Homo sapiens: one gene and its partner. The protein of the gene in region 1 interacts with the protein of each later gene in a pairwise test. Each region holds a gene or a part of one and is shown in the gene's direction. Other genes may lie near its edges.

Region 1 (2,749 bases):
CTTTGTCAATTTAAATGCAATGTATAAAAAGTTTATTTTGCTATTGTGAAAAACTAAATGTAAAGGAAATCACCTACTTTCATGCAGGTGTATAATCTTGAAAAGGAAAAATGCTTCCATGTTGAAGCCAGATTTTCTGTAGTAAAACTTTTAAATATTATTTTAAAAGAAATATGTATATAAATATCTCTATATTCTTTGGAATGATACTAAAGTCTCTGGTCTAGGACCATACCTTATATAAAGGTATAAGAGACCATGACAATGTCTGAAAATGGAATAGATAATGATGCCTTTTATTTAAAGTGGCCCACATAATATACATTGAGTACTCCATCTCTCCAAATGTATTTCCATAATGTGTTGAAAACATGCTAACATTTGTATGATTTTTATACTTCTGCCGAATAGACTTAGAATCAGATGAATTGTCTGTGTGTCTTGCAAAAGAGTTGGGGACAACTTGGGCAGGCCTATGAAGTGCATAGGGAGTGTATGTCTTCTGAATGGTTTTATTGTTCTTGTAATCTAGCTTAAAGAAATGTTAACTGGGAGGGTGCTGAGGCCACTCACTGCATTAATTTTGTGTGTTTAGAGTTCTGTTGTCAAAAGAAAACTAATGAATAAATTAGTTTGTCATTCTAGAATTTAAAGTTCTAAGATTAGTATAAAGAGTATATAGATTGTTAATCCCCACCAGCTAGACTTTGAACTTAAGTCAGACTTAAAGATTTGAGAAATTATTTGTGTCATTTACTAGACGTGATTTTTAGTTCTGTTTGATTATATTTCCTACACAAACTTCTTATTTAACAGGATAGCCTACTAAATTAAATGTTTCTTATTTCACTTAACTCATTTGATTAAACTGTATTCTAAAACATTTGGGGTTTTTCCCCCTATTCAGTTTTAATCTTGGAATATGCATTTGTAAATTGTGATGTCATTGAGACTATATTTATATTTGACTTGGCAACATTAACATGTCCTAAGACTTAGTGCAGAGAAGCTTGGCAGTACGTTCTTTGACTTAAGGATGGCATAAAATAATCATTTTTGAACCTGTGTAATAAAGCTTGAAAGCAGGGAAAAGAATTTCCTTTTCCCCCTTTTTTGTGTTGTCTATAGGAATTAACTTGGGATTGTTTTGTGGGTTTTTGTTTGTTTTAAATGTAAATTGAGAATCTTTTATAAGAAATAAAAGCATTATTGGGTGCCTTTGTTTGTAAACCAAAAAGTAATAAATGAATCCCTATATTTCCATTATAGTATTTATTGTATTTTTATGTTCTGAAAATTACCCATGGAACAATATGCTTAGGATTACAGGAAGCAGTCCTTACTTACACTTCTTGTCTGTTTTAGGTGTACTTGTTAATTCTTATGTCCTAATTTTATTTAATTCTGAGTTCCTTACACAGCATTTTAGGGAAAGAATACAGGCAGGATGACACTTTGTGTTAAAGTGTTATTTTTATGTATTACCTGGAATGAGGCAGGTTTTTTTCTGTTTTCTAAAAAGAGTAACCAAGATACCTCCAGGGTGTCATTGGGTTCCAGCTGCTCTCCTCCACATTGAATGATATCTTGTTAATTTATAGGCACATTTGTGGTAATTTATATGTCTATAGAGTAAGTATAAGAGATAATTCATTAGTAATAGGAATTAACTGACCCCTTTTGGATGGGGGAGAGCATCAGGCTGGGGTCAGGTAAGTGTAAATGGCCTTCTGAGCATGCTCTTCTAGGCTGACTCCCAGCCCTGACTTGAAACCATTAGCGCTAACTTGCTCTGTTTTGAGAAAAACTTTCCAAACTTTTGCATGAGAAACTAGAAAAAGGAATGTATGCCACGTAACTGGATTACAGAAATGAGTTAATTGTCTCTGTGATAAAAAAAAAAAATGAAATATTTTCTTATTGAATTAATATTTTTGTCTTGAAGCATTTTCTAGTGATAGAATGTATTTGTCTTTTTTCCTGGTGGTACCCTCTTAGCATATATCTTTGCTATCCTTAAGATCCTAAACAAATCATCTTTGTCAGTTAAGTATAGTTGCGCAAAAATTGTTAAATCCTTTGTCTTTATTAAAGAAAAATTTGAGTAACATTAAGTTTGATGTGCTCCTTTGCAAGTTGATGTCTCTAAAATTCATTTATTTAGAAAAACATGAAGTGGTAAGTATAAGTTTAATGTCTTTACCGTGGGCCTGAACTCAGAGAAATAAGGATATAATTGTTTTTTGGCCTGAGATCACAGATGATAGCTATGATACCTGTAATTTTATACAAGGGGGAAGGGAGACAATCAAGATTTTTCTGAATTCATTTGTTTAAAACAAAGTTAACATTCCTAGTTATTGTCTTCAAAATACTTTTCTCCTCTAGACATTTAATTTTCATTTTTAAAGTTCCATGAAGTTGAATTAGGTGTCTTCCAAAGATGCTTTGGAGGCAGAATTCCTTTATTTTCTGCTGTTGTACAGTAAATTCTTTCTCTCTCATATAAATCTAGAGAGCTTCCTTTCACTTGTTTTGAGCAAGGTGTAACTAGAAAGTGTTAGGTTGAGCCGTATAAAAATGCTAATATGTCTTTGACCTGTAAGAAATTTCATATGGCTCAGTCTAGTATTATAGCTGCCTTTTTTTCTTTTGTTTCTAACAAACACACCTGAACCTAAACAGATGGGTGTAGTTTTATTAAAGTAGTCATCCAGATTGTTTATCAGTATTTAGTTGTTTGACATTT
Region 2 (3,659 bases), on another chromosome or scaffold:
GGTGGCTCTATCCCTGCCCTTCTCATTCGTTTCTGCTACTCCTAGTTCTCTCTGCTTCTATCTGCTCTTCACTAGCCACAGTCTGCTCCTCTCCCCAGGCTTTTTCCCTGGCATGCTCTTCTGCCTTGTTGATTTCCAACAGAGACGTAGGCAGCTAATATGCCAACAACTACAACACTTAATTTACACACCCACCTGTCCCCTTTTCAGCTGACAAAAAGTAATTATTTTTTACGAGTTGGGAAATATTAAATGCTGCTCCTTATTTAAAATACTAATTCTGGTGAAATGACCAGTTGCCACTTTATAACATACATCCTTTAAAAAAATAAAATAAAAACCTATATTATTTTCTTCTTAACTGCAATGTCAAGAAAATCTGAGATCCAGATGTCTAAATTCAAGTGGTAGAATATTGGGTTTTATGTGAAAGTGTATAATTACATTATATTCGTAATATATTTCACACACACTCTTTAATTACAAAGCTTTAATTAAAATATTTGTCTTTGTTTATTAAGGTTAATATTCCCACATGATTGGGAAATGCTAATTTTTATGATCTCCCATGGTTCTGCGTTTTACACTGATGTTGTATTAGTCTGTTTTGCATTGCTATAAAGGAATATCTGAGCTGGGCAATTTATAAAGAAAAGAAGTTTGTTTTGGCTTACGATACTGCAGACTGTACAAGAAGCATGGTGCCAGTATCTGCTTCTGATGAGGCCTCAGGAAGCTTACAATCATGGCAGAAGGAAAAAGGGAGCAAGTGTGTCACATGGCAAGACAGGAAGCAAGAGAGAGATACCAGTCTCTTTTAAACAACTAGTTCTGGCATGAAGTAATAGAGTGAGAACTCACTCACTGCCACAGGGAGGGCACCAAGCCATTCATAAGGGATCCACCCTCATGACCCAAACACCTCACACCAGGCCCCACCTGGAACACTGGTGATCACATTTCAACATGGGACTTAGAGGGGACAAACTTACCAACTATATCAGATGTCATCAAAATTTCTCAACACTAAAGTATCAGGTTGCCAAAATACTATGATTTATTTACCAGTGTTTCATACACATAAAGACCAAACTGCCAAAATGTTCTTCAGTGAGCTAGTTTTTGATTCTAGTTTGAGCTAGTTTGAGAGAAGGCTGGGCAACACAGCGAGACCTTTTCTCTATATTAAAAACAACAACAACAACAATGACAACAAAACCTTCCTTCTTAGGAACTATCATCAAAATAACTTCTCTTTCTTAAACCGTCTTTTCTTCAAAACTACCCAGAGATTTGCTGCTAACCATTTAAGTTTGGCTTCTTTCTTTCTTTTTTTAGACAGACTCTTGCTCTGTCTTTTTTCCTTTTTTTTTTTTTTTCCCTCGCTGTGTCATTGAGGCTAGAGGGCTGTGGTGTGATCTCAGCTCACTGCAACCTCAGCCTCCCAGGTTCAAGCGATTCTTGTGCCTCAGCCTCCCAAGTACCTGGGACTACAGGCATGTGCCATCATGCCTGGCTAATTTTTTGTATTGAGATGCGGTTTCACTGTGTTGCTCAGGCTGGTCTCAAATTCCTGGCCTCAACTGATCCCCACACCTCAGCCCCCCAAAATATTGGGATTGCAGGCATGAGCCACCACACACAGCCAGATTCTGATAGTCTTTAAAATAGAGGAGCATCATTCATGAACAGTCTGAATAGAGACCATATGAAAGTCAGTTTTAAACTAAGTACAGGCACGCCTCAGAGATATTGTGGGTCTGGTTCCAGGCCACCACACAATAAAGTGAATATTATAATAAAGTGAGTCACATGAATTTTTTGGTTTCCCAGTGCATATAAAAGTTAGGTTTACATTATAATGATCATCTAATGGAAGTCTATTAACTGAGCAATAGCATTATGTTTTAAAATATATATACGTATCTTAATTTTAAAATACTTTATTGCTAAAAAAATGCTGACAATCATCTGAGCCTTTACAACTTGTAATCTTTTTGCTGGTGGAGGATCTTGCCTCAACATTGATGGTGGCTGACTTAGGGTGGTGTTGCTGAAGGCTGGGGTGGCTGTGGCAGTTTTTTCAAATAAGACAGCAGTGAAGTTTGCCACATCAGTTGACTCTTCCTTTCACAAGAGATTTCTCTGTAGCATGCAATCCTGTTTGATAGCATTTACCCACAGTAGAACTTCTTTCAAAATTGGAGTCAATCCTATCAAACTCTACCACTGCTTACTCTACTAAGTACCTATAATATTCTGAATCCCGTGTTGTGATTTCAACAATATTCATGGCATCTTCACCAGAAATAGATTCCATCCCAAGAAACCACTTTCTTTGCTTATCCGTAAGAACCAGCTCCTCAGCCATCTACATTTTATCGTGAGATTGTAGCAATTCAGTCCCATCTTCCAGCTCCGCTTCTAGTTCTCTTGCTATTTCCACCACATCTGCAGTTCCTTCCTCTGATGCAGTCTTGAACCCTTCCACGTCATCCATGAGGGTTGGAATCAACTTCTTCCAGACTCCTGTTAATGTAGATATTTTGACCTCCTCCCATGAATCACAAATATTCTTAATGGCATCTAAAATGGTGCATCCTTTACAGAAGGTTTTCAGTTAACTTTGCCGAGATCCATCAGAGGAATCACTATCCATGGCAGCTATAGCCTTACAAAATGTATTTCTTAAATAATAAGTCTTGGAAGTCAGAATTACCCCCGATCCATGGGCTGCAGAATGGATGTTGTGTTAGCAGGCATGAAAACAACATTAATCTCCTTGTACATCTCCATCAGAGCTTTTGAGTGACCAGGTGCATTGTCAATGAGCAGTAACAGTTTGAAAGGAATCTTTTTCTGAGCAGTAGCTATCAACGGTGAGCTTAAAATATTCAGTAAACCATGCTATAAACAGATGTGCTGTTATTCAGGCTTTGTTGTTCCATTTGCAGAGCACAGGCAGAGTAGATTTAGCGTAAATCTGAGGGCCCTAGAATTTTCAGAATGGTAAATGAGCATTGGCTTCAACTTAAAGTCACTGGCTGCATTAGCCCCTAACAAGAGAATAAGCCTGTCCTTTGAAGTTTTGAAGCCAGGCATTGACTTCTCCTCTCTAGCTATTAAAGCCCTACATGGCATCTTCTTCCACTAGAAGGTTGTTTCATCTACATTGAAAATCTGTTGTTTGCTGTAGCCACCTTCATCAATGATCTTAGCTAGATCTTCTGGATAACTGGCTGCAGCTTCTACATCAGCACTCGCTGCTTCATCTTGCACTTTTATGTTACAGAGGTGGCTTCTTAAACCTCATGAACCAACCACTGCTAGCTTCCAACTTTTCCGGAGCTTCTTCACCTCTCTCAGCCTTCAAAGAATTAAAAATTAGGGCCTTTTACTGATTAGGCTTTGGCTTAAGGGAATGTTGTGGCTAGTTTGATCTTCTGTCCAGAACATAAGAACTTTCTCTCCATATTAACAATAAACCTCTTTTGCTTTCTTATCATTTATATGTTCAGAGAAGTAGCACTTTTAATTTCCTTCAAGAATTTTTCCTTTGCATTCACAATTTGGCTAACTGGTGCACATGGTCTAACTTTCAGCCTGCCTCAGCTTTCAACATGCCTTCCTCACTAAGCTTAATTGTTTCTAGCTTTTGA

Evidence for each region. Proteins that work in one complex are often made in the same cells at the same time.
Region 2: the proteins of FAR1 (region 1) and DHRS4 come close enough for resonance energy transfer, tested with the Homo sapiens proteins (one large-scale study listed by BioGRID).

What each region holds. Positions count from the first base shown.
Region 1 is NC_000011.10:13,730,233-13,732,981, forward strand, and holds the end of FAR1 (fatty acyl-CoA reductase 1), read left to right. Parts: 3' UTR 1-2,114; downstream 2,115-2,749. UniProt on the Homo sapiens protein: Catalyzes the reduction of saturated and unsaturated C16 or C18 fatty acyl-CoA to fatty alcohols. It plays an essential role in the production of ether lipids/plasmalogens which synthesis requires fatty alcohols.
Region 2 is NC_000014.9:23,960,166-23,963,824, forward strand, and holds part of DHRS4 (dehydrogenase/reductase SDR family member 4), read left to right. Parts: intron 1-3,659. UniProt on the Homo sapiens protein: NADPH-dependent oxidoreductase which catalyzes the reduction of a variety of compounds bearing carbonyl groups including ketosteroids, alpha-dicarbonyl compounds, aldehydes, aromatic ketones and quinones.